Regions from separate parts of the Homo sapiens genome. Here regions 2, 3, 4, 5, 6 and 7 are each linked to region 1. The links come from fine-mapping of genetic effects on gene expression. A gene starts in region 1. Each other region holds a variant in brackets. All regions are shown on one strand. Distances are from middle to middle.

What was found.
Region 2: its variant is fine-mapped to the expression of PLA2G7 in whole blood (INTERVAL, PIP above 0.99).
Region 3: its variant is fine-mapped to the expression of PLA2G7 in whole blood (INTERVAL, PIP above 0.99). The same link has a PIP of 0.9 or more in monocytes.
Region 4: its variant is fine-mapped to the expression of PLA2G7 in whole blood (TOPMed, PIP 0.96).
Region 5: its variant is fine-mapped to the expression of PLA2G7 in whole blood (TOPMed, PIP 0.97).
Region 6: its variant is fine-mapped to the expression of PLA2G7 in whole blood (TOPMed, PIP 0.98).
Region 7: its variant is fine-mapped to the expression of PLA2G7 in whole blood (INTERVAL, PIP 0.92).

The regions. Positions count from the first base shown.
Region 1 is chr6:46,732,938-46,737,005 of GRCh38, reverse strand. It overlaps PLA2G7 (phospholipase A2 group VII), which reads left to right and starts at 1,631. Exons shown (of 12, transcript NM_005084.4): 1 at 1,631-1,826.
Region 2 is chr6:46,787,328-46,791,395 of GRCh38, reverse strand. No RefSeq gene overlaps it. Among named protein-coding and RNA genes, the nearest start is that of MEP1A, 4.0 kb to the left of the region's middle. The variant C/T (reference allele first, on the strand shown) is at 2,161.
Region 3 is chr6:46,769,323-46,773,390 of GRCh38, reverse strand. No RefSeq gene overlaps it. Among named protein-coding and RNA genes, the nearest start is that of MEP1A, 22 kb to the left of the region's middle. The variant C/T (reference allele first, on the strand shown) is at 2,317.
Region 4 is chr6:46,433,438-46,437,505 of GRCh38, reverse strand. All of the region lies in intron 2 of RCAN2 (regulator of calcineurin 2), which reads left to right. Among named protein-coding and RNA genes, the nearest start is that of RCAN2, 56 kb to the left of the region's middle. The variant A/G (reference allele first, on the strand shown) is at 2,062.
Region 5 is chr6:46,686,956-46,691,023 of GRCh38, reverse strand. TDRD6 (tudor domain containing 6) reads right to left here and starts at 3,139. Exons shown (of 4, transcript NM_001010870.3): 1 at 1-3,139. The coding sequence starts at 2,895. TDRD6-AS1 (TDRD6 and SLC25A27 antisense RNA 1) reads left to right here and starts at 2,859. Exons shown (of 2, transcript NR_134643.1): 1 at 2,859-3,090. The variant T/C (reference allele first, on the strand shown) is at 1,704.
Region 6 is chr6:46,846,511-46,850,578 of GRCh38, reverse strand. No RefSeq gene overlaps it. Among named protein-coding and RNA genes, the nearest start is that of ADGRF5-AS1, 55 kb to the left of the region's middle. RefSeq lists an enhancer at 3,174-3,738. The variant T/G (reference allele first, on the strand shown) is at 1,977.
Region 7 is chr6:46,668,518-46,672,585 of GRCh38, reverse strand. It overlaps SLC25A27 (solute carrier family 25 member 27), which reads right to left. Exons shown (of 9, transcript NM_004277.5): 6 at 3,793-3,877; 7 at 2,359-2,451; 8 at 1,358-1,460. It overlaps TDRD6-AS1 (TDRD6 and SLC25A27 antisense RNA 1), which reads left to right. Exons shown (of 2, transcript NR_134643.1): 2 at 2,001-2,142. Among named protein-coding and RNA genes, the nearest start is that of TDRD6, 17 kb to the left of the region's middle. The variant A/T (reference allele first, on the strand shown) is at 1,901.

The sequences.
Region 1 (4,068 bases):
AGGAAGCCCAGTTAAATCTGAATTTCAGATAAACAACAAATAACTTTTTAGTATATGTCCCAAATATTGCATGGGGCATATTTATACTAAAAAACTATTTATTGTTTATCTGACATTCAAATTTCACCAGATGTTCTGCATTTTTATTTGCTAAATCTGGGCACTCTTCACTGGGCATCTTCTCAGGGCACTAACCTGCCAAATGCCAACTGCTGTGGGGCTGCTCAGAGAATATGACCTAATGACAATGGGAGATGACATGTTGCTGGCAATGAGAGAAGTGAATAAAATGTTGCATACTTGTTTTCAGGAGCTGTTCTCAAAGCTTACCACCTTTTTAGTGTGGGATTAGGTCTTCAACTTCAACTTTGTCTTCACCTTTGTCTTAAGGTCAAAAGAAGACGTTAGAGATGTCTTTGGTAGGGCATAATGTATCCTTTTAGATTGATATTTGTGGGCCATTTGTTTTACAGGGGGTTAGTCCAGGAAGTACAAGACAATGTCATTAGGCGGATAGAGTTCCATTTAAATTAAAAATAAAATCTATTGTTAGGTTTAAATGAGTCACTGCTTCATTAAGCTATCAATATTAGATAACACATATTGAATGAATGTTTCCCATAGGCCAAGCTCTGTCCCAAGCATTTCACATGTATTTGCATTTCGTGCTCACAAACTGCCTCTGACTGACTGATTTTGATTTTCTTGATTTTATGGATGAGGAGACCGAGAAGCAGAGATGATGAACTTCCCCAAGGTCACACCACTCATAAGTGGGAGAAACAAGCTAAAATTCAGGCCATCTTACTGCAGAATACTCAAAATCAAAATAAGCAAAATTTCATCTCCAGTTCTGGCACCTCACCAAAAACCAAAACACGATTTAAAAATATAAAATTTTAATAACACCACACATAAATTTCAAACTACTTTCCCTAAGTTTCTAGCTGAAGTTTTAAATGAGTGTGTTTTTAATTTATTAGAAAGTGGATTGAAGAGAAAACATTGGAAGATGAAGGAAGGCGTTTCAGTTAAACCCCAAATAACTCTGTGTTACACTGAGCTATGAAACGGCTCCTTCTAGCTCCATTTCTCCTCAGACCTAAGTGCTATTCCTGATTGTCCTTCATTGTCATTTCCAGGGAGAAATGACACCAGCACAGTGGCAGGCCTTCCAATCTGGAGCACGGTCCACACAACTTCCGAATTGGTGTTCAGTGTAAAGTGTATCGGAGTGCGGAAAATGCGCAGGGCATTGCCAACTATAGATGCTCGGAGTAATTCAGTGTATTCAGAGAACACGGTGAAACAAGGAAAACCGGCCTGACTGGGGGGTGAATTCAGCAGGGAGTAAATCTGATCGGCATCAGGTCTGCGGAAAGGAGCTGGTGAGCACGACACCACCCAGGCATTGCCTGGCTCTCTCCGCGGCGGGCTAAGTTAACCGCGGGTCCAGGTGCGGGCCATGGTCTTGGGGAGGGTGCTGGGTGCGCTCGAGCAGGCTAGCGTCGGGAGCCGCCGCTGCTAGTGAGAGGCCGGGGCCACACACGCTCCTCCCCGGTACCTCCTCCAGCATCACCAGGGGAGGAGAGGGTCGGGGCCACAAGGCCGCGCTAGGCGGACCCAGGACACAGCCCGCGCGCAGCCCACCCGCCCGCCGCCTGCCAGAGCTGCTCGGCCCGCAGCCAGGGGGACAGCGGCTGGTCGGAGGCTCGCAGTGCTGTCGGCGAGAAGCAGTCGGGTTTGGAGCGCTTGGGTCGCGTTGGTGCGCGGTGGAACGCGCCCAGGGACCCCAGTTCCCGCGAGCAGCTCCGCGCCGCGCCTGAGTGAGGAGGGGCCCCGGGGGCGAGGCGGGAGTGGGAGGAAGGGCACGGTCGCCGCGCTGGAGGTCGGGACCCCGGAGCGGCGACCGGCCGGGGTGGGCTCGCTGAGTCGCACCCGCTCTGCTGGCCGGTCCTGGGCTCACAGTCCCTGCAGCCCTCGGAAACAGCGCTAGGATCCTTGCGGGGAGAGGGAGAGGATGACGGTATTAGACACCAGTTCTTCCAAACCTTTTCCCGAAAGGAAGCAACCCTAAGAGCTCAGAGCTGGGGGGAGAATCAGGACAGGCAGGGAACACATGGAGTTTTCTTTTCTTTTTTTTCTCTCTCTCTCTCTTTCTTTCGTTCCTTCTTTCTTTCTTTTGAGGCGGAGTCTCATTTTGTCGCCAGGCTGGAGTGCAGAGGCGCGATCTCGACTCACTGCAACCTCTGTCTCCCGGGTTCAAGCAATTCTCCTGCCTCAACTTCCCGAGTAGCTGGGACTGCTGGCGTGCCGTATCACGCTCGGCTAATTTTTTTGAATTTTTAGTAGAGACGGGGTTTCGCTGTGTTCGCCACAATGGTCTCGATCTCCTGACCTCGTGATTCGCCCGCCTCCGCCTCCCAAAATGCTGGGATTACAGGCATGAGCCACCGCGCCCGCCCCGGAGTTTTCTTATCTGTAGATCTCCTACAGGGACAATCTCTCTCTCCGTCTCTCTCTCTCTCTCTCTCTCTCTCTCTCTCTCTCTCTCTCTCTCTCTCTCTCTCTCTCTCTCTCTCTCTCTCTCACACACACACACACCACTACACACCTCTCACTCTGCCTCCTCTCTCTCTCTCCCTCCGCTCTCTCTCTCACACACCCTTCTCCCTCTCTCCCTCTCTCTCACTCTCCCTTTGAGGAGTATTGCGTTTTTGGAGCCCAGTTATGCGTGGCTGCTGTAAGAACAAAACAAAGCACTCTTTGTCCTACCTGGAGCATCCCCCTGCCGGCCAGATAAGATCACAGCTGTGTCACCAAGTCAAGGGAGAGGCTCATTTTTAAAAAATTAAGCAAAATCAGAAAACAGAGAACACTGTCTTCCTCATCATCTCCTGGAGCTTGTAAGAGAAATTTCTGTCACCAAAAACGAAAAGTTCGGGCTTTTATTCATGCCTGTGGTTCTTGGGATTACTGCAGTGGTGATGAGGAAGGAGAGGTGCGTATGGCTCATAAATGGCAGCTTGCCACCTTTAAAAGGCACACGGATTCAGATTTGGGATGTGTTAACAAATCAGGCTTGCACAAATTACTTTTGATCCAAATGAGAATGCTGAGCTGGGAGACTGGTATATGGGTAGGAGCTGGAAAATGTATCCCCTGAGGTGTTGGCAATCCCAAGAGGCTCAGCACGAAACCTTGAGCTTACATTGAATTCAGAGATCTGAGCATTAAGCACTGGCCTGATCAAGAAGAAGCAGATGGCCTTCTGGTCACGAGGCACTGGTGAGCCTCCATCACCCAGGCAGATTCCCTCACAGAGGAATTCTGCTGGCCCTGCAGAAAGTGGTGAGACAGCGCACCACCTTGGCATTTTCCAGCAGGCCTACTTCAGCTCCTTGCACTTGGGCACTGAAAGTGCTTTCCCCTCCCCAGATATTTGTGCACCAGAAGCTGCTGCTGGCCATGTGGTGATGTCTCAATGTCTTTCTTCATTGAACTGGGCCCTTCATACCCAAGGCTGGCACCATAGTCTGTGACTGCCTACTGTACAGCCAGCAAGACTGAAGGAGTTGCAGCATTAGGAGTGTTGTGAATCTGGTTCAGCCACTCATTTTACAGTTGAGAAATCCCTTCTGAGGTGTGGAAGGGCTTGCTTAGCACCGCAGGACTTTTCCCTCAGACAGAACCTGGGACAGCTGGGTCCTCATTTCCTCTCCATTGTGTCTCTGTCCCCTTTGCACTTTTGTTGTGAGGAACATACATGGGCCTAAACACATTCCCTCACTCTCACCTTTGCACATGAATATGACTTACCACACTCTTTGAAGCTCTGTCAGCACAGAACATTAAGAAAAGTGCTAACTGGGTACCTGAGCAGCTGGAGTGGGAGCCCCTGGGAAAGTCAGTTTAGGAGTCCCCTTTATCTTCCTTTTCCTGATACCCAAGAAGATGGCTATTTCCTGGAAAGGAAGGTGGATATTGGATTATTTACACTCTGATTCCTCTTAAGCCTAATTTTTTTTCAAGATTCGTGATAATAAGCCTGACTGACGTCTCAAGATG
Region 2 (4,068 bases), 54 kb before region 1:
GTAAAATAGGAGGCATGTCAACTGGGGGCCTGCTTCTGATGGGCAGAAGCGTTCTATGGCTGATTTTTGTTTTACCTAAGCCACTGATGGTGAGGTGATAAAAGGCCATCTTCCACCGTCTCTAACCATTACAAACCACTAATATTATTTTTTAAACGAAACAAAACAAAACAAAAAGCCAAATTTGCCCAACAGCCGCAATGACTTAAGTGAGCAACTACAATCTAGACCATTTAAAAATTGGGCAATAATCAAATTTTAAAACTGGCCAACATCGTAAGAATAATTGGCTTTAAGTATCAGTGTGGAAAACATATGAGACTTTTATTTCTTAAATGTGTTGTTTAATTTTTCTCAAATTCTGAAGCAATTATGGTAAAACTGAATATTTGGTAAAACTGAATATTTGTTAATCTTGGAAACCAGGAAGTAGGAGTTTGTTATTTTATTTTCTAAAGAAAAAGGCAGTGCTGTTGCTTTGGTACACCTCTCTACTAAATCTCAGGTATCAGGATTTCAAACAGGGAATAGTGAGGCTGTTTAATTCTCTCCACCTTCTCTTGCTTCCAGCCAGATGTGTTTTTATCTTTCCCTGCCTTCTTAAACTTATCTGAATGATATACTACAACAATGGCTTTGGAATCAGATAAGCAGGAACTCCACCTCTACCATTGACTAGCTACAGTAATTTTAGTACCTGCTTTTTATGTGTAGAATGGATAGTGGTGCCTACTTCATGGGGCCAATGTAAAGATTCAATGAGATAACATATGTAAACCACAGCTACTAGAAACATAGGAAGCACTCAATAAACTGCTCCTTCTACCTGCTAGTTAGCAACTGCCTCCTAGCAAAACATGGGCACTAAAAACACAGCTCAGCCCACTCCTTGCTCAGTAGAATCTCCAGTGATGAGAACATAGGTCTTCAGCAGACACAACTTGCCCCCAATTATTTTATTGTCACAATCTTAATGGCAGATGTTAATTAGTTACCAGCTATTTGCAATCCTAGTCACTTCTTCATTGTGTCAGGGTATCAAATGAGTAAGGCTGGGGCCTTAAGTCCTTCATTTGAAGGGTTTATGGCTTTTCAGTTTAAAGAAGATTATGCACTCTGTGGTCAAGGTCCATGCTTTATTTCCTGTATTTGCCCCAGTGTTTGGAAACATAGTAGGTAATTAGTTCTCATTTTAACTGAAAAAAGTAAATAGAAATTTCTCTGAAGGTATCGGATGGGGTGACTTGCTTTGATCTCAGGAAGGGCATTTCATAAACTGACCAGTTGAGAAAGTGGTCTGAAGCTTAGAGGAAGAAAGCCATTGACAGGTAGAAAATGGAAAAACCCGCCCCCAGCTATTTCCACACACTCTCCAGCTTCATAAAAGCTCAGGCAAGGAGTTGGGCTAAGAGACTTGCAAAGTCCTCTCACCCCAAACCCTTCTCAAGGATGTTCTCTGCCCTCTTTCTACTCTATTGCAAGATGCTGATTCCTTCTGCTTCACTCACAGAGTTCTGCCTTCAACCAGCTGTCAGCTAACCTGAAACACAACAGTCCTTGTTCCTCCCAGGGCAATCAACATATTAACAGGGGCCCAAAGGTGTATAGAGCAAGAGTCGGCAAACTGTCTGTAAAGGGCAAAGAGATATATGTCAAGCATTGTGGGCCATATGAGCCCTGTTGTAGCTATGTAACTCTCCTGTTGTATGTAGCATAAAGTAGCTGTAGACAATAATGTAAAGGTGTGAACATGGCTGTGTTCCAATAAAACTTTATTCACAAAAACAAAGCAAAGGGTCATAGTTTGCTGACCCCTGGGTTTTAGAGAATAACCCTCAAGGTGGTGGAAATTGAGACGGTGATAATAATTATAACAGAAGCAGTAGCAGCAACCAACATGTACATAGTACTTACTGTGGGCCAGGCAGTATTCCAAGTATCTAAGGGTAATTATCCATTCAATCCTCACAACAATCCTACGAAGAAGCAACTATTATTATCTCCATTTTATATATTAAGAAACTGAGATGAAGAAAAATTAAGGAACCTTCTCAAGGTCATGCAGATCCTGAACAATGCTCCTAAATTCCACCTGAGAGGCAGTTCTTTACACCTATGTCTGGCCTTTGACAGCCCAGGAGTGAGGCCTCCACCATTATG[C/T]TGTAGCATGCAGACCCCTGGTTTCACAGGGTTCCATCTCTAACAGTTTACTAAGAAGAATTAACCCTGAGGGAAACAGTTCCCAAGCTATAGATTCCTTCAAAATCCTCTGGATGGTTTGTTGAGGTACAAATTTCTTGGCTTGGAATTTGGAAATCCTGACTCACGTCAAATGGTGAGTTCCAGAGATCTGCATTTTTAATAAGCACCCTTGTGACTCTGATGCAGGTAGTCTGTGGAACACACTTTGATGAACAGGACACTGTGGAATTTGCATCAGTCAGATGCTTCCACTCTCACTGTGGTTATCGAATAGCTTTCCTCTGATTCCCTTTGTATAAGAAAATCAAAAGATCATAGAACCTTCAGTTTCCTAATAGGGAATACATCAGATGTTAAGAATTCGAGAGATCATCAACACAGAAGTCCATTTCAGAAGGCCTCCAGGAAACAGCCCCTCTGCAGTGTGGTTTGAGGACCTGCATTTTTAACAAGCTTGGGGGTTATTTCTATATGGAAAATGTGAGACCTGCTGACCTGGGCAGGCAACTGTGTTTTGGAGTGTGTACAGACACCAATCCCAATTGGTGAGGCAAGGGGTACTTCTTACTCAGCTGGGCACTGAGGACCCTAATAAGCCACTCTTTAGGGCCAGGTGGGCATTCAATGGATTTGGTTCCAGCCTTTTCTCTTTTATAGAACCCAAAGAACACATTGTTATCTTTCTCTTATGACACAAGGAAGAATCAGACAAGCAGCTTACTTTATGTTTTCCCAATTCTCTTTCTACTTATCGAACCCTCATAAAGTATTTAAACTGAAGCCAACTCAGCTATGAGCTACAAGATTGTCCCCTGATTTCAGGAAAAGTCTCCAACCTCTGCTAATTAGAGGGATTATCGCTGCTCACGCGGCCTAGTTGGACTGTGACATCTGGGAGAGAATACTTAACACATGGAAATTGTTGAGTGAAGGGAAGACACAATTGAGCTGGACTTTTCTCTGAAAGGAAATGTGATTCCTATGAAGAAGTTTTTCTACTGCTTCTGAAATAAGGGTACAAGGAAACAGGCTTAAATTGCAAAAGGGACACTTGATCGTTAGCTGTGAAGACCTTCCAGGGCATCTGAGGATTCTTGGATCCTAAAGTATTTTAAGAAGGGAGACAATGTTAGTCATAGAAAATAGTGCCATGGCTGCAGGCTGGGTGTGAGGCAGCCACAGACAGATACAATTCTTCAGATAGGGGTGGTATTGGAGAAAGAATGGGTAGGGCTTGGTTTGGGGATTTTTTGTTTGTCCTAGAAAAGTCATTCAGTTTTGAGGTCTTTTAATGGAAGCAAGATGATAGTAAGTTACACATGGAACTTGATCCAGACAACAGGAGGTTTAGCCATTTAAGAAAATAAATAGTATCTGTAATCCCATTTCCCTTTGAAAATGGCAAAATTGTTTTTGGTGCAGCTGATTCTTTTATGCAAGTGGACAACAGCTCTGTTTAGGGCCAATTGCATTATCTGCCACTTTAACAGGAATGTCAGTTGAAGTAACAAGGGGAAGGTGATAGGAGGCCTATTGGGGGCATTTTTGGAAATTCTCAGAATAATCGATCAAAGTTGACAGACTGGCAAAGGAGGCTTCCTGAATTGGTAGCAGGTGAGATTATACTCATATTCTGAATCAAATTTTAAAATATAAATTTACCTTCTAATTGCCAATGATGGGAGTGTGAAGACTGCAATGGCAGCCACTTTCTAAAACAATGTCACATATTACACTAATAAGGACAGCTTTGCACAAACATGCAAGCCAGAGTGTCAGTCACCGATGACCTGTGAGTAGAAGTGTTACATTTCTTTACATACCAGGAAAGGAAGAAAGCTTTTAATAGCTACACCTTGGTTTTTC
Region 3 (4,068 bases), 36 kb before region 1:
AAAAGCCATCCCAAAAGCTTACATAGCTTAACATTTTTATAATAGCAATAGGGGCCAGACCTCATGTTTCACTGTTTCACACACAACCTTGACTTCTCAGTGGAAAGTATTTTGCTACCTTAGATTCTTCAGGATCTGCAGTCATCAAGTTTCATGGAACCTGATAAGGAGGCTCAGAGTCACATGGCTGAGGGAATTCCAGTACTGAACATTAAAAAAAAAATCTTTGTAGCTAAATTTACTTGGAGACTAGCACAATGTGCATGGGTGTTAGATAAGGCCAGAGAAGTGTCTTGAGTGTGACCAGGCGAGAAATAGGAAGCCAACTTAGAGAGCAGAAGCTGTTCTCTCTAATTTCTGAACCCCTGCTGCAAAGTTGCTAAACAGTCACATGGTTCCTAGTGGGTGGAAGGTCTCTGATTTCTCTTCTGCAAATGTGGCAAGAATTTAGAGTTCCCCGGCCCAATAAGAGGAACATGTGTGGCCACAGGCTGGCCTTGGGACTCCAGTTATATCCTGGAAGGGAGCTTCTTCTTTGCCTTGGTTTTGTCAAATGACATGTGACAAGAAATGGTTTGCTAAGAGACTGCTGCTGTACTTATAATGTTCCCACAAGCCATGCCAGAGTGCCCAAAGAGAAAAATTCTAGTACCCCTCAAGTCCAAGATTCCTGGAGAGCTCACGGCTTCTGCCCCAAAGTCCTTTGGTCTGATGGAATCTAGGACTACCCAAATGTTGAGAACAGAGTGACAAAGCCAGCAGGGGAGAGAATTCCTGAGCTGTCTCTTAGTGAAATTTGCTCTTTTGCATAGGAATTATTGGTGATGCCTGATTGCCCTATAGTTGTTACATGTGATTTTATAAGATGGGGGGAACAATCCTCTGGAGGGAGTGTGGGACGGTGGACAGATGACTGGACTAGAACACAGAAAACCCAAATTCAAATACTAATTCTACAACAAATCCGCTATGTGAGCTTGGGGAAATCACTTTTCTTCTCTGAGCATCTGATTGCCCATCTGTAAAATAAGGGTTTTTGGTTAGATGAACTTTAAGGTCCTCTTGACTCCGATAATAAGAGTCATAACTATAATCATGAGTGCCAGGTACATCATGTGTAATCCTAAGAGGCAGGCATGCCTATCACCAATTACAAATGAGGAAACTGAAGATATGGCAGACTAACCAAACTCCTCAAGTTCAAACTGCTTAGAAAGAATTGCTTGAACTGACTACCCTAAAATAGATCCTGAACTCTGACTACACAGCAGAATGTGAGGGAATTGTTTCTAATTTCTTGGGCTTGTGGGCACCACAGACATTTCCAAAGGCCACTGGCTACTACAGAAAAGCCTCTAGATTTTCCCCCTATCATTACATTTAGAAAACTTTCAAATACACAGAAAAAATTTTTAAAAATTTTATAGTACCATCCTAATACCTACCTTCTACTAGCTCTTACTGCTTGCTTTCACACATAACTAGTCACCTGCCATCTCACTATCCCTCCGTCAATCTTATGTTTCGAGGAACCTTTAGTCTTGATGAGTTCTAAGAAAGGTGTCTCTCATTAAGCTTTCTCAATTCTTTCTCTCTGGCCACATATTGCTTAATCTTCACAAGTATCAATGAAGCCAGCATGAATGGGCCTTATAGAGGAAGAAACTGAGGCTTACAAAGGTCAGCAACTTTCTCAAGGCCACTGAGCTGGGAAGTGCTGGAACCTACCTGTCTCAGGCAAAAGCCCCTGCTCTTACCCCCATGTTCTGTTGCCCTCTGACACAGCACTTTTCAAAAACATAGGCATTATGCCTTCGTTAGTCAGTCATCTTTTACTTCCACTGAGGGGTTTTTTTTTCCCTAGAACATTAAAATCTTTGAGGAAAAATGAAACAAAATAAAAACGACTCAGGTTTTATTCACTCTGCTATGAGCAGAACTTCATGTATAGTGTCCTAGAAGAGAATGAGTAAATTATGTGGTCCCCCTCCCATAAAGGTTGACTTTACCATCTGGTTTTGTGTGTGTGTGTATATGTGTGTATTTATGTGTATTCCATCATATCTGTTTGCTTTCACAAACCAGCGCCTTTCAACTCCGTTGTCAACCTTAGCTGCTTCTTTTGTCTTTCTTCCTTTCATTTTGCGTGCCATGTTTTGAAATGGTGGGAGAAGAGGAAGTTCCATCAGCGTGAATGAGCGTAAGTATAGGCACTTGAGTGATATGGGAATGCTCATATTGCTCAATGTGTCTTTCAACACCCAAGCCTTATCATCCTCAACCTGTCAGCTGGGCTTGCACAAGTAAATACATTTC[C/T]GTTTTTTTTTTTTTTTTTTTTTTTTTTTTTTTTTTTTTTTTTTGAGACTGAGCTTCGCTCTTTTTTTGTCCAGGCCTCCCAAAGTGCTAGGATTATAGGCGTGAGCCACCGCGCCTGACCTAAATATATTTCCGTGCCAGCTTGATTGAGTAAAGGGATGTTGGTAACCAGAAATGCCTTAGGTGATCCAGAACCCCATCACACCTTTATTTTAAAGTAGCTTTCCCCCTCTGCTTTCATTTAAATATGGGTGTGTCTGCAGTTACAGGAGCCATAATACTTTATTTTTTTAATGATTTTTCTCCCCTTTTTAAAATTATTATTTATTTATTTATTTATTTTGAGACAGAGTCTCGCTCTGTCCCCCAGGCTGGAGTGCAATGGCACGATCTCAGCTCACCGCAACCTCCGCCTCCCAGTTTTAAGCGATTCTCCTGCCTCAGCCTCCCAAGTAGCTGGGATTACAGGTTTGTGCCACCACACGTGGATAATTTTTTTATTATTATTATTTTTAGTAGAGACAGGGTTTCACCATGTTAGTCAGGCTGGTCTCAAACTCCTAACCTCAGGTAATCCACCCACCACAGCCTCCCAAATTACTGTGATTACAGGAGTGAGCCACCATGCCCGGCCCACTTTTTTATTAAAAAATAAATCACAGATTGGGAAAAATGGTTTCTCTTAATATTCTTAGTGGACAAAGGTAATGTACAGATTGGCAAAAAGAAAACACATTTCCATTACAAAAATGGGCAATGACAACGGGAGCCCTAACACTTTAAATCAGGGAAACTTACCATGAAAGTGTTTAATTATTTTGTCCCATGAGCCACTTTGGCTGCCTGGTAAAGTCTATAAACCCCTTTCTAGGAAAAGCCTTTTTATATAAAATGTAATATAAGAGATTACAAAGAATACTGATATTATCATAATGCAATTATTAAAATATTAAAATAACTGTGGCATATTTATGTCATTATTAATATATTACATAACTAGATTTAGAGATAATTCTAATAGTTACTGTAATTTCCAGTTAATGAGTATAAATATTTTAAGATATCTGAGATATTATCAAAATATTTCTTAATTTGAAATATAATATTAATATAACATGAAAATATCTGAGATATCTGTGTGCAACGAAGCCACATGAACTAATAATACGTATGAGTTTTGTTACCCACCATTCATAGTTGAAGGAAATGTTAAATGTCACATAGGGCTAGTAAACGTAAATATTTTTCCTCCAAAGAAGTTTACATACATCCTAAATTCTATGCAGTTATAAGAATGATTAGTTTAGAAAGGATTTTAACAATTATACAGCTCAAGGATTCTAACCCTGGATGGACATCACATTAATTTAGTGAATATTGAAAAAATAGAAATTCCTGGGACCTGACTTATTGAATTAGAATCTCTGAGGAGAAATCCATAAATTTGTATTTTTTATAAACTCCAGAGGTTATTCTGATACAAAGCCAATAGGGAATCCACTGAACTAGCCCAATATTTCCAATAATTTATTCACCAAGAATTTATGGAATACATTCCCTTTTCCATCATCAACTCTCATGGACCTGGTGTTTTGACAGGGGCTTTGTCTTCCTACATGAATTAAATAATCATTAATTTTTCCCCCATATTAAAAAATGTTTACCGTATACTTTGCATGTACTAAAACTTATACTTTTAGTGTACCATACAGTCATGTAACCCAGTCATGTAATCACTACAATTATCAAGAT
Region 4 (4,068 bases), 300 kb after region 1:
ATCTGCACTCAATGTACATTTGGTTTGTGAACACCTTAATCAGTGACTTTACCCAATTTTTAAACATTTCAAGACATATTTTCATGCCTTGTATTTTATAAATTAAGTGACTATAGATCCCTTATTTTAGGATATGGGGTGGGAGTGATGCTCTTGGAATTTATGCAGGATCTGCTAAAAGCAGCCAAAACACATGTTATTATACCATGTTAAACTAAATAAGCATCTAAACTGTAAACTGTATTGGAACTTGATGGCAGGGCATTAAAAAGGATTGAGCAAGCCCAGAAATGGAACATTATGGGTCAATGTGGAGGCTCGTTTTCCTATTGCCTGTTCAGGGCATACACCCAAATAGGATCAATTTATTTTACGTGGCACTTTCAAGCCCGTAAGAGTACTAATGGCTTCTGAGTATAACCAAATGCTTTTCCAACTGAAGCATAAATGGAAGCATCTGCTTGGAAAAAAATGAGGCAGTTGTTTAATGTTATAGTGTCTGGAGATGACAGACAACAGTCACATAATCTGTGTCTACATGTGACTGAAGGCATTGGTGCCTACTGGGAAGGCTGAACTTTCTTTTGAGTTACTGGTACTTTGGAGGGGTTGGTTCTGTTTTTATTATCTAAGAACTCAAGCCTCATCCCCACAAGGGTCATTCTGTCTCTAATTAGGGAAATGATATAGCAGAGTGATTGAGAGAGAGAGGGCCTTAGCATCTATCAGTCTAAGTCCAAAACCAAATTCCACTGCTTATTAGTTGTGCGACCATAGGCAGTTTATTTAACCTTTCTAAACATCAATTTCCTCACCTGTAAAACAGCATCAAGTAACAGTATTGACCTCATAGGTTTCCTGTAAGGATATAAGTGATATAGTCAATGATGTCTTGATCCTAGTTAACTGTAACTATTGGCTAGGAATAATAATAGTTTCTGCCCATCAGTCTGATCTGCATCTTGCATCATTTAAAACTCATGGGACTCTGGGCCCGGCACGGTGGCTCATGCCGATAATCCCAGCAGTTTGGGAGGCCAAGGCAGGTGGATCACCTGAGGTCAGGAGTTCGAAACCAGCCTGGCCAACATGGAGAAACCCCGTCTCTACTAAAAATACAAAAAAATTAGCCGGGCATGCTGGCACGCGCCTGTAATCCCAGCTACTCGGGAGGCTGAGGCAGGAGAATTGCTTGAACCCAGGAGGTGGAGGTTGCAGTGAGCCGAGATTGTGCCACTGCACTCTAGGCTGGGCAACAAGAGCAAAACTCCATCTCAAGAAAAAGAAACCTGTTGGGACTCTTGCTTCCCTTGCCTGTGGTTGCTGCATAACGCACCAAAGAGCAACTCTGGTCAACTGCCATTGTCTAGTCTCACTACCCTCAGAAGAACTTCTAAATCCAGATGGGGGAGCAGTAAGCCAGATGAGTACCTTCTGAAATCTGAGCACATATGTTTATTCACAAGAACTAGCCCAGAAGAAAGTGCATTTTCTATCTCCCCTGCGTACAGAGTCTTGAACAGCTACACATTTCCTTACTGTACCAATAAATTGACAGTCTTTTGTCTTCATTTCTCCAGTGCTCACTAGAAAGTTCCATTTTCCTTTATGTTTGATGTATAGTTACAAAGACTAGATGCAGTCACTTGGCAATTCCATTCATATGCCTCCATGTGAAGCCTGATAAGTGTTGGACTTGTAGTTGGTACAGCATCCTTAGAAGTTTTCTGAAAAGACAAGTCAGTTTTGCCTTCCTGTTTTGCTTTCCATTCTGTCGTTGCATCAGTTCCTAAAGAAAACTGGATTGGTTGACCAAGCCTTCTTTGTGAGTAATTAAAGGCATTTCAAATTTTAATTTCAGGAAACAAAAGTCTACTGAATAGAAGATACATTCCTCTGCGGGTGCTTCATTCTTGCTAATGGCAAATTTTGAGTATTCGTTAATTGTGATTGGCAATTTAAGCAGGTCCAATTACTTTAGAAGGAATTAACATTTGCATGGGAAAGAGAAGGTAAATGAGAACAGAGCCCTTTAAAATCTGAATATGGTTTTTAAAATAT[A/G]TTCATTAAGTACTTTGAGAATTTTACTTAGAAGACTCTTCACTTAATCCAAGCACATTTCTTTCTGAAGAAAATAGTGCAGGAAGCATCATAGCAAAATAGCCACATGAAAAGTGACAGTTCTCTGGAAGAGAAACATCATTATAAAGAGAATTTGAATTCATATGAATGACTTTATTACACTTAATGTTTTATATGATTAAAGGAGTTATTTCAAAAAATAATTCTTTAGGGAATCCTATATAATCACTGTAGACAGAATGATAGCCAATAGCATACATGGTAACCTTTTAAAAATCTCTTTTGGCACAGGTTGTCATTTGTATAATACTAATTATTGCTGGGCACAAAGTGAGAAGATTTATATTCCAATCTATATAGAAGGCCATCATGAATAAATAATGCATCGCAACGACATATTTAATTGTCAGAGACTTTGTTGCCAGAAATATAACTAATATGGGAGGTGCACAACTTCTCATGGCACAATCTCATTCAGGGTTTCTCCACTTCAGAATTACTGACGTTTCTGACTGATAATTCTTTGTGTGCGGGCTGCCCTGTGCCATGTAGGATGTTTAGTAGTATCCCTGGCCTCTACCCACTGGCTGACAGTATGCCATTCCCCATCATGAATACCCAAAATGGCCCCAGACATTGCCAGATGTCCCCTGGGGGGCAAAATCACCTTGCTTGAGAATCACTGGCCCAGTTGATGGTTTCAAACTACAGATGAGAGGAGTTGCCTGGGCATTTCTCAATAATCTGTTCTAGGACCTCATCTTAGGATAAGAATCTCCTGGGGTGGGTCTCTAGAAGAAGCATGAAGAAAAGAAAGTTATAATCCCATTCTCTACATCTCATTCTGAGTTCTTTTCTTTCCTCCATTCTAAATGAGGAGGCTGCAGTTCTTCAAGTCCTCTCTTTATGAGCTGCTTTGGGGCAGTCTGTGCTTAGTGACATGGAGGCTCCCATAAGCAGCCCTCCAAATATTCCTTCCTCATTCCAAAAAAAACTGTCATGTAAGGTCTCCCCAGAGTGTTTCTGCATGGGCCTCAGGAGACCTGTCTCTGAGTTTGCTTCACAGACACCTCTCCCTCAGCTGCCACCATTACTGCACCCACTCTCAGGACACCAGAAATTGTGGGATTCAGACCAAGGAGAAGTTTTGTTTTGAGATAATTTGTTTGTGGAGTTACCATTGGATTGGTTACCCAGATGGTTAGGCTCAGCACTTTTATCACTGTGGTAATATTCAGTATCCTAGGAAAAGCAGCTATCTTTGTGAGGCACATAGTGTGAATGGAACCTAAAGAAAGGTGACACAGGCATACTGGGCAATCAGCACATTGGTCAGAGGGAGTAAATTTTAAAGTACCAATGATAAATTAATTACCATATCAAATCACATGAAAGTCTTGTGCCAGGTTTGTATAGGCAGTCTGTGTTATTGGTGCCATTTTGTAGTTATACCCAGTAATATGCTGAAGTGGGCACTTACCCGCTCCACCAATTGTGTGCAGCATTTAACAACATGGATTAAATTGGCCATGGGAGTACTAACAACATGGAAATGAACAAACTATAAATCAGGCTTGTTTGTTTTCCTAGAGTATTAGTTTCCTATTTAACTAATTTAAATTAAATTCCTAACAATTTACCACAAGCTTAGTGTTTTAAAGCAATGCAAATGTATTATCTTAGAGTTCTGGAGGTCGGAAGTCCTAAAATCTAGGTGTCAGCAGTCATGTATTCCTTCTGGAGGCTCTTGAGAAGAATCCATTTCCTTGTCTTTCCAGCTTCTAGAGGTTGCCTGCATTCCTTGACTTGTAGCCCCTTCCTCCAACTTCAAAGCCAACACTGTAAATCTTAATATTTCACTACCCATCTCTTTGACTTCTGCTTCCAATAACACACCTCCTTCTCTGAGTCTGATCCTCTTGCCTCCCTCTTGTAGCTTTGTGTTACACCTGGATAATCCAGAATAATCTTCTCATTTTAAAGTCC
Region 5 (4,068 bases), 46 kb after region 1:
AGGCTTCTGAAGTTTTACTGGTCTTGCAAGTCTCTTTTCTACCAAGAAATGGCATGCACTCTGAAAGGGGGTTAGCAAATCCACAATGTTAAACAGTTCTTCATTAATTGAAGCCAGAGCAAATATTGTACATTTTAATTCTAGATTTTTTTGCCATGCATTATCTATAAATTCATTGAAAGCTTGTATTGCCTTTACATCCCAAACAAAGGGATTCTGGCCAACTGGTTGAATTAAATTATAAAGACTGCACCTAAAAGCCTGTGCCTTAACCTTCAGAAATTCTTCACTAATTGAATAAATATTCTTCACAGATACCATTTCTCTGTCTCCATAATCTACAAATGTTACATTGACATGCTCCACAGACTGTATCCCACTAATAAGTGCTCTGGACCACTGTCTGTTTACTGTTCGCTTAGCCAAACAAGCAAGGGTGTTTCTCTGGTGAGGAGCAGCTGTATTTTTGCAATAGTACTGAATATCAGACATTAGAGTTTTAAGTCCTTGTATGTTCCTGGTCAGCTGACACCAGAAATAGCCAGGGTTTTCAACATAAGACACTCTGACTTCTACTGTACTTCCAACTTCCAGCTCTCCTTTACTAGAGGAGCCTGGCTTAATTTCCAAGCAATTCTGCATAAGAGGAAAATAAACAGATGCTCTTTTCACTTTTTCCTGCACAACTAGTTCAGTTGAACCATTTGTTACAACTGTTGTGTCACTCAAAGCTTTTGAAACAGATGTGGTTTTATTCTCTCTCTTGGCTTTCTGCTCTCCTTCTCCAGTCTTGGCAAAAGGTATTTTGTTACTCTCCGTAGTAAAGTGGTTTGAAACATGCCCTGGGGAGTGGGCATTTACCAGGATATTTTCCTTTGTTTCAAATTCCTGATACTTGGCATATCCAGCTTGGGCAATTACCTTACTAATGTTTTCTTCCCCTGTTCTTGATTCGTCAAGAATCTCAATAACATATTGATGATCCTGTTTATCAAGAATATGGATGACTAATTCTTTGTGGAGCACAGTCTTTTTAAAAAAGGAAACTGCCTCCTGGCTCCAAGTTTTTCCCAAAGGCCAAATATCAGCCAGGGTGCACTTCACAGCCAATATTGGTAGCTGCCTAAACTGAGGAAGCAGCATCCTTACGTCATACCAGTCCACATTTTCCGAATTGCCTCGGTCAACTAAGAATACATCCACACTCTTGTCATCCAATTTGGTGACTATGGCCCTATAATAACCATTTTCTTTCCACTTGACACAGCAAAGGTCATCAGGTTCAGGTTTCAAAACTACACCATCCAGCTTACTGGCAGAGGAATAGAAACCACACATTCTCCTCATCAGCTTACTGAAGGTGACATTGTGTTTCCTCAACCTAATCCAAAACTCAGAAGGATTTTTAACAAACTCTACCTGCGCATCGTAGAAGGCATTCATCTTTAACCTGATAGATCTTAAGGCTGGGAGTGAAATCTCTTCATCTACTTCTTCAGCAGGAGACTGAGACTGAGATGTTTCTGGTTCCTCCTCCTCTGTTGCCTGGCTCTGAAGGACTCGGTCAGCCAAGCAACACGACTGTACTCCAAACACACGGTTCAGATTAATCCCATCTTCTCCATACAGGCTGACATAATACACATGCTCAAAGGAGCAATAAAATTCAATCTTTGCATTCACTGCCTTGCCTAGTATCAGTG[T/C]CTTCAGGTCACCGACCTGTGACCGAGACCAGCCTCTCCCACCGTCCCAGAGTCCATACAAAGCACAAGGGTAGGTCACCACCGGCATTCGAAAATATTCAGGCAGCAAGTACCGAAGGCTGCTGCAACTCACTAACTCCTTCCTTCCATAGTCCACATGAAGCACCTGGGCACAGCGCTGGGGCCGAAAAGTCTCAAGCAACAGTGCTCTGTACCAATGTCCATCCAGGCCACAGGATGCACACGGAGAGCCCGGCTTATCTGGGCTCTCCTCCCTCTCCTCCCAGGTGGCACTGGTAGAGTTCTCATCCCCTGTCCCCGTGGAACCCCGGTATACCTGGGCCATGCTCTCGGAGAGGCGGTGGATCTCCTGCGAGACGCTGCGGAGCTGGCAGTGAATGCGGTGGGGATGGCACACTTGGGTTATGACCACGGCCTCCGTCACGCCCAGCTGCAGCTGGGGATAGAAGTAATCCAGACCAGGCTGCTTTTGCTTGAGCGGGACTCGCGAGAGAACCGGGACCCCGGAGCCCACGCTAGCAGTGGCCGCTGTGAGATAGCGCTCCAGCAGCGAACGGAAGAGGCTGTCGGGCACCCGCCGAGCCAGGCCCAGCTCCCGCATCTGTTGGAACACATCAGGCACCTCCAGGAGGACCAGGCGATGGAGCAGCAGCACGTCCAGGACGCACCCGTGCACCTCCTTGCCCTGAAGGTTGCTAAGGAAGTCCACGGCGTCGGCGGGCCAGTGCTGCGGCGGCTCGCCTGAGCCCGCGCCGCAGCCTGCCGGCACCAGGCCCGCTAGCACGCAGCCCAGCACTTCCGAGGGCAAATTGAAGAACTCTCTGCGCCCAGGCGCCAGCGAGCCTGCTCCGGCCGTGATGGTGCGGCCCTCGTCCAGCAGGAAGACACGGCTCTCCTGTGCCTGCCGGCTGACCACGCGGCAGCGGTGCCACAAAAGCCCGACCTGCACCAGGCACAGCTCGCCGGGCGAGGCCGAGGCGCTGCCCAGCGCCCACTGGCCGCGCGTGGCCGCCGCTTCCTGGATTTCCCGGCTCAGCCGCAGGTACTCGCCCCGCCGCTCGCCCACCAGCCCCCACAGCTGCACCGGGATCACATCGGGATGCACGTCCACGAAGGACACCCGCAGGGCCAGCGAGGCCCCCGGCGCCGGCATTCCGGGCGTCGAGCACATCTTGACGGCGCGGCGCGGCCCCCACTTCCGGAAATTAAGGGCCGCGCCTCAGGGCCTCGAAATCCTCCGCGCCGCCTGAAGGCGAGTCCCAGCCAAACTAGGTTCAAAGGACCCAGTGGAGGGGAAGAATGCCGGCGAGGCCTTTTCTCGGCAACTCCCCCGTCGAGGGTCCTCCGGGACTCCCGCCACGGACTGGTAAGACCCGGTAGCCCCTCCAACCGCCCGAGGTCGCGCTTCCGGGCACGCATTTACCTCACTCGGCGCCGCCACTTCCGGCCGCGGAGAGTGGGCGGGGCCAGCCGAGGCCTGGGGTTGGCCTAACGCCTAAGGGCCCAAGGAGCTTGTTGGGACGTTCAGGAGACCCCGAGGTGGGAGGTTTTGGACACAACCTGCATCTCCTCAGAGCGCCTTCGACTCTGGAGGCCGCCGTGTGACGGCCTGACACAGGGCTGCGGTGAGGACCGACCAGAGAGGGATTTCCTTTTCGTCCTCCCAACTACCAGGGATTGAGCACTGGGGGCCAGGCAAGGTACTAGCCAGTGGCGTTCCCGACGGGAACGAGAAACGCAGGAGCCAATGGCACGTTCCTAGGCGTTAAGGCCGGAACTCTAGGAGGGCCCTGGGTGCTGCTGCGGGGCACGGGTGCTCCTGCTGGCTCAGTGTGTCCGTGGACAGCCAGGTGCTCAGCCTCTATTCTTTAACCCTGTTCCATCATCTGAATTGATAAGAGTTGTTATGAGGTTAAAATAACGTGTGAAAGTATATAGCAACTGGTACATATTTCCCTTCCCACACTTAGCTGATACGGGTTCCTTTGCTCCTTTGCTGTCTAACTCTGGCATCCCAATTTTGAAGGCATTTTCATTTACTCACAGAGCTAGCACAGAACTGGATTCATAAAAGGAGGCCAAGAGGAATGGAATCAACATTCCTTCAAGCCCCTGCTGTATATACTAAAATCTTAACAGGATAACCCTTTGAGGCCTCTGTTAAATGTCCAAACCTCCATTTGGAATGGAAAAGTGCAGGCAAACTAGAAGTTTCCAGGATATGTCTACATTAGATTTTTGTTCATTTGCAAAGTTAGACACATCCGTGGAAGCTTCTTATAGTCTGCCTGTACTTTTCCTTTCATTCCACGTTTCGAAATGTCATTACATACAAATACAACAA
Region 6 (4,068 bases), 110 kb before region 1:
TTGTGTTTTTAAAAGGGCAACGGGAATGGTGTCTCATCATTTCAAGAGGACGGTAGTTTAGCTTTAATATTAGGTTCTGTTGGTTTCTAAAATTATGACTTGGGATTTAAAATCACATCATGTATGCCAGCACGCAGCTATGCTTCCTTTCCATTCCATAACAAGGAAATATCTAATGAGATCCCGTGAGCTGTCTTTGTAGTAATTGTCTGCCTTCTTGCAATGTGGTGCTGCTGCTGCTCAGGCTTCTGCATGTCACCCAGAATGCCCCTCCACTCTCCAAACAGCGAACGATCCTTTCTATCTTCCAGGCATGGGGGAGGCCGGCAGCTCGCCGCTGAACTCAACTGGCTGTCAGGGCTGATGGTTTCCCTCACCTCATCCACACTCCCAAGCCGTGTGCAAAGATCCAGCATGTTATAGAAGGTTTAAACAAGGGTCCTTGAAGTAAAGTTTTCAGAACCAAATGTCTAGCAAATAAACAGATGCCTGTTCCAACATTTGTGTGAGGATGACTCAAAATTTTCATTGACAGCTGAAAATAGAGCCCTCATGTCCTATAGATGAATATAAAGGATGTGAGGGCTCTATTTATCCTCTAGCACATTCTAGACGGAAACCAAGTTTCCCACTGTTAGTGAATGTGGAGTGGACAGAAGAAGAAAAGAGGGGAGATGGGCCAACTCCCGAAGCCCGCTCTGTGCCAGACCAGTTCTTATCTCCAAATATCATCTCTATGTGTTAGCGGTGGGCGTGGGGGCCTTGGTCGTGGTGTCCTACGATTCAGACACAGCCGTCCTGTCTATTCTTAAATGATTTTATACACACCCATTTTTCCCCTTTTACCTGTAAACTTTGAAATGAAGTTGAAAGGCCACCAGTGTCCATGACAGGTCCCTCTGCACACATGGGGCATGGTTAGGAGATACATGAGCCTGTTCCCACTGCAGGGTTTTTATTCTCTCATGCAGAGCCAAGTGAAGGATGCCGGTGACTATTGAAGCCCAAACACAACAAACCCAGAAGCCTGGGGGGAAAAAAATGGCTTTATTCTCAGCATGAAAGGCAAGAGGACCTGACTGGGCAAGTGGTGGGCAGATTGCTGTCACGGCCCACTTCCGATGACATTAAACCGCAAAACCTAGGAATGACTTTGGGCCCTGCCTTTTTCGGATTTTGATTTTTACCATCCTGGGTCTTCCATCCTGCCAGCCAGCCGGCACCCCAGCAGTTGTGGGAAGAGGAATTTGACTTTGATTAACCGAGAAAAACTGTGCACCCGTTTTCTGTTTTTTTCTGGAACTGTGAGGGTTTTCCCATGCCCCAGGGGCTCCCTCACAGTTGTCCTATGCCAAGCATTCCCGACAGGAATCTCCAGCTGGGTTGGAGTGACAGCTGGCCTCCAGCACCGCAGCTCCGCAACCACCGCTGGCGTCTCCTGAGGCTCGCGCGCCCCCTGCTGGGCCTGAGAGGAGGCGTCCCCGCTGCGGTCCGGCCTCAGGAAGCCGGCGGGAGGCAGTCAGTCCCGCGGATGACGCGCCCAACGGTCTAGGTTCAGGAAGTAATTTGATCATATGGACAGAGCGAAGGTCAAGGCATAGTGGATAACAGAAACCAGGAATGAAAAAAATCTCTTTCACTCCCGCCTCCTAACACTTTTATATTATGATCCTTGCAGGGGAAAGGGTAGTCAGAAAGCAACGTAGGACTGTGGAGGGAGGGAAATCCCAGTCATGTAGTTTCAGTGTGTGAAAGGCAAAGGAAATTTCAGGCCCCCAATTCACTATGCAAAAAGGAAAAAATTAAGATGGAAGCTAAGTCATGCAAGAAACAGCCTTTTCCTTCTGTTGCTAAGCGAATAGCTAACAGATGAAAGGCCAGATATCTCCACAGATAGCTACGCTAGGTTCACCTTTTATGTAAAGTGCCGATTTACTGAGATGAATACATCACTGACTATTCCCCTACCTGCTCCT[T/G]TTCTCCTGCAATGCATGGATTATGCATTGTGACCATACCCTCCCTCTTCGCCTCCACTTTTCCCCTTTAAATACTGAAGCCCTCAAAATATCTTTGCAGAAAAACGGACCACAGACTGTCTCTGTGATTCTGTGTTCCTTTCTTCCAGTCGTGTTCTTAACCTTGGCAAAATAAACTTCTAAGTTGATTGAGACCTGTCTCAGAGACTGTTCGGTTTACAAGTGTGCATTGCACATCCACAGGCAGGCATACATTTCTGAGGCATACTCGCTGGGATAGCTCCTTCCTTTCTCTGTCCCCCCTCACTGACTGAATCTCATTTATGGCACTAACAACAAAACTGAAAGCCCCAGAAATGATCTGGTTCACCCATTCCAGATAGGTTGCTGGAAGGTCGTTTGAGGAAGAAAAATGGGTGCCTTCCATGTTTCATGGGAACCTAATACTTTTTCTATCAAGGCAGCTGCAAAAGGATTAACATAGGTGGCCCTATTCCCTTTCCTAATTCATCCATTCAAAGCCACTGCTGGCCTGGATTTTCATTTTCAATCCATGATGAATCTGCAGATGAATCTGCAGCTATCCCAGGGCAATCTGACAGACCAGCCAGCAGCTGAGGCTGGATGACAAGTTCCTACCCTAGCCTCTGAGCACACATTGCTAACGTGTGATCCGAGAAGACCCAGGTCCTTGGAGTAGAGGGACAAGCTGAAATGGCCTTAAGTAATAAGGCAGACAGCTTCCCAGTTTGGGGGGATGTCACGCACCTTGGCCTGTTGCTCCTATCCCCTCGGAATAGCTCTCACACCTTCTCCCTCATGTTGGACATTCCTTTTACAAAAACAGAAATCTCAAGGACAGATAAGGTTAAGAAGGTTAATCTCAGGTTAATCTCAAGGAGAGAAAAGGTATGCAAATATACTTCTGGGTGAAACACAGTAACTTAAATTTACCCTCGAATGAAAATGGCTGGTAACTATATAACTATGTTAACCAACAGTTTTTGAGCCCTTGCTGTGTACCTGGTCCTGTTCTAAGATTTTTATGTGTATAATTTCATTTAAACTCTACAGCAAACCAAAAGTAACTAAATATTCTTTTTCTTTGCATTTTTAGACGAAAAAACTAAGCACAGAGAGGTAAATAACTTGTCCACAGTCACACAGCTGAGGACCAGTAGAACCAGGATCTAAGTGCAGTGTCTGACCTAGAACATGGGCATGTATCCACCTCCTTATGTTGCTTCTCTATGCAACCTGATGCCAGTTACTTGCTTAAAAGTAGGCTTCCATAGCAGGAAAAGTTTCAAATGCACAAAATGAGAGGGGAGAACAATGGTGACAGAGAGGGTGGAGGAGTTAAGGCATCTCCCAGCTTCATCTCACTTTATAATTCTACCTTGGGGCAGCCCAGGACATAAAGACCAATGTTCTGGGCAAACTTCAGAGTGTGCCTGCTTCCTTTTTAAGTCTCTGATGAAACATCAAAGAATTCCTGCTGTGCTGCTTTATTGAAAGTAGTTCTCAACTTAGCTATCTCAACCCCCCAGCTTGAGTCTTCATTCAAGTGAGCTTCTTGTAAGGTCTCAATCACCAGTGTTGTTGTTTTTATTTTCATCTCGGATCTATCAAGAATTCTCAGAGTGTTGGATGGCATTTAGACATGTAGGAAGAAAATATGGCTTCCCAGAAATGAAGAGTGATTCTGAGGCTATGTTTAAACATATCAAGTGGAGAATTGGGACATTTGTCCTAATACATTTAGCTAAGTCATGATTTTCCTTATGATATGCAGACTGAAACAGCAGCTGATTTGCTACTTGAATGCTTTGCACTCTTTGCTTCATTTTGCATGGACAGGTGTATTGGGCTGTTCTTCAGCATTGATTGACAGCCAGTTTGGTAAATGTGGTACGGTGGTTAAGAGCATTGGTTCTAGAGCCAAACTGTGTGCTTTTCAATTGGAGGTCCACCACTTATTAGTTTGACTTTTGGTAAAATAACTCTTTCTGCCTCAATTTACACTACTTGAAAGGAGATAATAATGGTACAGGCTCCATGGGTTGTTATAAAATTCTTATAAAGCCTACAA
Region 7 (4,068 bases), 64 kb after region 1:
CAACCATTCTCCCATCCCCATCCAATCAGTCATGTTTCTATTCCCTTTCTACCTCCTAAACATGTTTTTAATCCATCTTCTATTCCCACTGTCATACTCTTGTCCAAGCCACCATTATCTCTCATATATCACTACTCCTGGCCTTTTCCCAATCCACACGACAGGCAGAACAAATTTTCTAAAAATGCATATTTCTTCAAACTGGTGCCCATTACTCTTCTGGCTCATATGGTCCTTCCTAGTGTGGTGTCTGCCTCTCTGTGGTCTCACCCCTTGACTCTCTCCATGAGGTCTCTGTAGCTTGGTCTGCTAGGTTTCCTTGAACTCACCCTGCTCTCTGTCCACTCCAACTGTCCCTCTATAGAGAATGTTTTTTTTCCTGCCCTCTTTCCTGGCTAAGTCATACTCATTTTGCAAATCTAAATTCAGAAGTCCATTCTCCAGGGAGGTTTACTCAATTGCCAGCTTAGGCTGTGCTTATTTGCTATATATTTCCATAGCATTATGCACTCTTCCCATAACATTTATCACTTATAGTTTCTTATTCAAAGCTGAGTCCTCAGTATAGGGCTTTGCATGATGTAGGTACTCAATTAAAAAGATACATATAATATTACATTATATATAATTGTATTATAATATATTGTGTTAATTTTTGATTGCTTGAATTTCTAAACCTATAACTCACCTATTCTTTCAAATGTTTTAACTTACAAAAAACGTCAGCACTTTGTTTTTATTATATTTGCTATATTACTTAAACAAGTCTATCTAATTCTACATTATAGAATTAGAATTCTATATTTTATTTGCTATATTGCTTAAACAAGTCTATCTAATTCTATATCTTAATTCACTGCAATGAAAAATAACATCTAAACCAAATAAAAATGACATAATATTTTCTTACTAAGCAGAGTTTTGTGGTAATAAATATTAATGGGTAATGTAACATCTGCTATCAAAGTAACAAATTTTTTTGAAACAGTATTTTTTTTTGTAGGAGAGGTCTCTAGTGTAAAATCTGTATATATATTCTAAAATATTGTATTAAAATATGACTAAATGAAATACTAAAAATTTTACATTACAGAAAATCTATTTACTGGCTTTATAACAAGACTATCAACTTATTCGTCAATGGATGTAACTTATTTTACCTTACTCTACCACAGAAGGCAAGATAACTCTGAGGAGAAGTGAAAGGAAATAAAAGAAGATTTAAAAAAGAAAGAAAGGACCTTGATTTGGGGGGCAGGGCCATGCTTCAAACCAGAAGAGAAAAGGGAAAATGCTTATAAATTAAAAGTAATTTAAGTACAAAGAAAAAAAACAAAGGAAGTAAACCTAACTTTACCATTCTCAGCCAAGATGGTAAAAAGCCTTTATATAGACTCATGAATCCTTCACCTTGAACAGCCTGAATCAAGCAGTCAGTCGATGATTTATACAAAAGTCCCCTAAAAAGGAAACAAGATCCTTTTAATTTTTTTCTGTGTAAAAAAATATATATGTACATAAAAATTGTCTAAGGAATCTTATAAAAATTAAATATTGGCCGGGCGCGGTGGCTTACGCCTGTAATCCCAGCACTTTGGGAGGCCGAGGCAGGCAGATCATGAGGTCAGGAGATGGAGGTCATCCTGGCTAACACGGTGAAACCCCATCTCTACTAAAAAAATTAGTCGGGCATGGTGGCAGGCGCCTGTAGTCCCAGCTACTCAGAAGGCTGAGGCAGGAGGATGGCTTGAACCTGGGAGGCGGAGCTTGCAGTGAGCGGGAGATCACGCCACTGCACTCCAGCCTGAGAGACAGAGTGAGACTCTGTCTCAAAAAAAATAAATAAATAAATAAAATTTCTGCTAGTTTAGAAAAATATTTGTGGTTCTACAGATACAGA[A/T]AACTTGTTTTGATCTTAAAGATATTTTCAAGGTTAACTCTTCTGATTCATGCCACCCTTGGTCTTATATTTAGAATTCATTCTATCTTTTCTCTTCCAGGGAGAACATACTATTTCATATCAAATCAGATTCTCCACGTTACCTACTCAAGTCATAAGCGTCTGAAGAAAGTGCTCTGTAAATTCTCAGCAGAATATGCTTTTAACAATTCTTTAAAAACAATAAAGTCATAATAAAAATCTTGTGTCTAAATAATATGATTGTTAATTAGCTTATCTCCCCAAATGCATGTCACTTTTTCATCAAAGAGCAGGTAATTGCATAAAAAAAATGCGCTCAATTTTCTCAAAAAACACACAAATACATTTCTATCAATAAAAAATGCAGAGATGCATCTTTAAAACACAAAGGTATTACAGATATTCAAGCACATGGATACTGAAGACTTTTTATCTACCTTCCTTGTTTATCTCGTGGTTGATTCATTATTCTGCTTTTGATGACATCGGCTGGTGTTCCCAGAATAGAAGCTACCAGTCCAGAACATAAACTATAAATACAAATAAATGAAATTGAAAGATGGTATGTAGTAGTTTGTAGCTTAGGAAAGGGAATGTGGTATTCAGAAAGAATATAATACTAAATATATTCTTACAAGCTTCATAATGCTCTTTTTGCTTAAAATTAATGCTAAATTAATTAAAGAGGTAGAAAAACAACAAAAAGAATGTCAGTCAACAAACAGGCATTGTGCACCTGCTGGTGTCAAGCATTCTTCTAGGCAGTGAACAAGACAGGTAAGACCCTGCCCTTGAGGAGCTTATACTTCACTTGGGAAAAGGCAGAAGTCAAATAAATAATTTCAGAAGCTGACAAAAGCTATGAAAAAAACATGGGGAAGTGTGACAGGGAGCAACTGGGTGACAGGCAGTCAGGGAAAGCTCCGGGGGTGACAGCAGAATTGAGTGGTTACAAAGGACACATGTATATGAAGACCTGAAGGAAGAATGTTACAAGAAGATAGAACAGTACATGCAAAAGCCGAGTCAGTAATACTCTTGGAGTGGTTAAATTCACATGCGTGTGTGCATGCGCGTGCACACACACACCCCTACCTCCAAATATTTGACTTGACACTATTACACTTTTAGGGTTGTCTACTTTTAGGGTCATCTAAATAGCATAGGAAGTTTTAGAATTTGGAAACGATCAGAAGCTAAATGAAATCACTATAATGTCAAGGACAGTAGACATCTATAAAATAAGTCATTCTAATGGATAATTTGAAATTGTGTTGCAAAGAGATCAAGGTACTGCTCCTTCCTGGAAAGCCCTTCGTATCCCTTTCTGTGAAGAGTCACAGCCTTTGAAAACCCTTGTCTATTTCTACCTCCTTTGTGGATCCTTCCAAGTGGTTATGTTTTTTCCTTCCCCTGAACCCTGTAGTAACTAGTTGCTTCCTTTTAGCATTTCCTGTAGAGTGTTTTTATATTTGTCTTGTTTTCCTGGTTGGTAAGTTCCCTGGGTAGGAATTGAGTTTACCCCTTTGGTGCCCACTGCAGAGCCCTGCCCAGTGCCTTTAACATAAAAGGCACTCAAACATATCTGTTGAAATGAGTTGGAGAGTCCATCATCATAGCCTGTTCCTGGGATGGCCCCATCAAGATGCAAATATTTTGAGAGGTTTAATCCAAAACATCCTACAACTTTGTCTGTCTCTTCCCCATTCTAACTGCAAGAAACTTTAAGAAATTTCTCTTTATAAATGTACTCTTCTCTAAAGGTGATGCCAGTACAATCCCAATCAAATGAGCCTAAAGAATTTATGTCAAATATGGAAGAAAAAGTGATACAAAAAAAAAAAACAGAGTCCAACTAAAACAATCCTTACCTTGATAAACCGTGAGTCATGATATTGTCCTCAAGTGGTGTATTCAATACCAAGTAGTGTTTCACTGTATCATAAGTGGTTAAATCTGGCAATGGAAAAAGTTTAAATATTCATCAGTCAACAGTGAATGTCTTTTGTGTCAAGAATATGCTAGGCTTGGGGCAGGAATGTGTACCAGGATGAAAGCTACCAAGGAATCCTTCTTGTTCTCAAGGAAAGCACAGCTACAGATAGAGGGAGAGAAAAAGAAGAAGAGACAGAAAGTCAAATGTATCA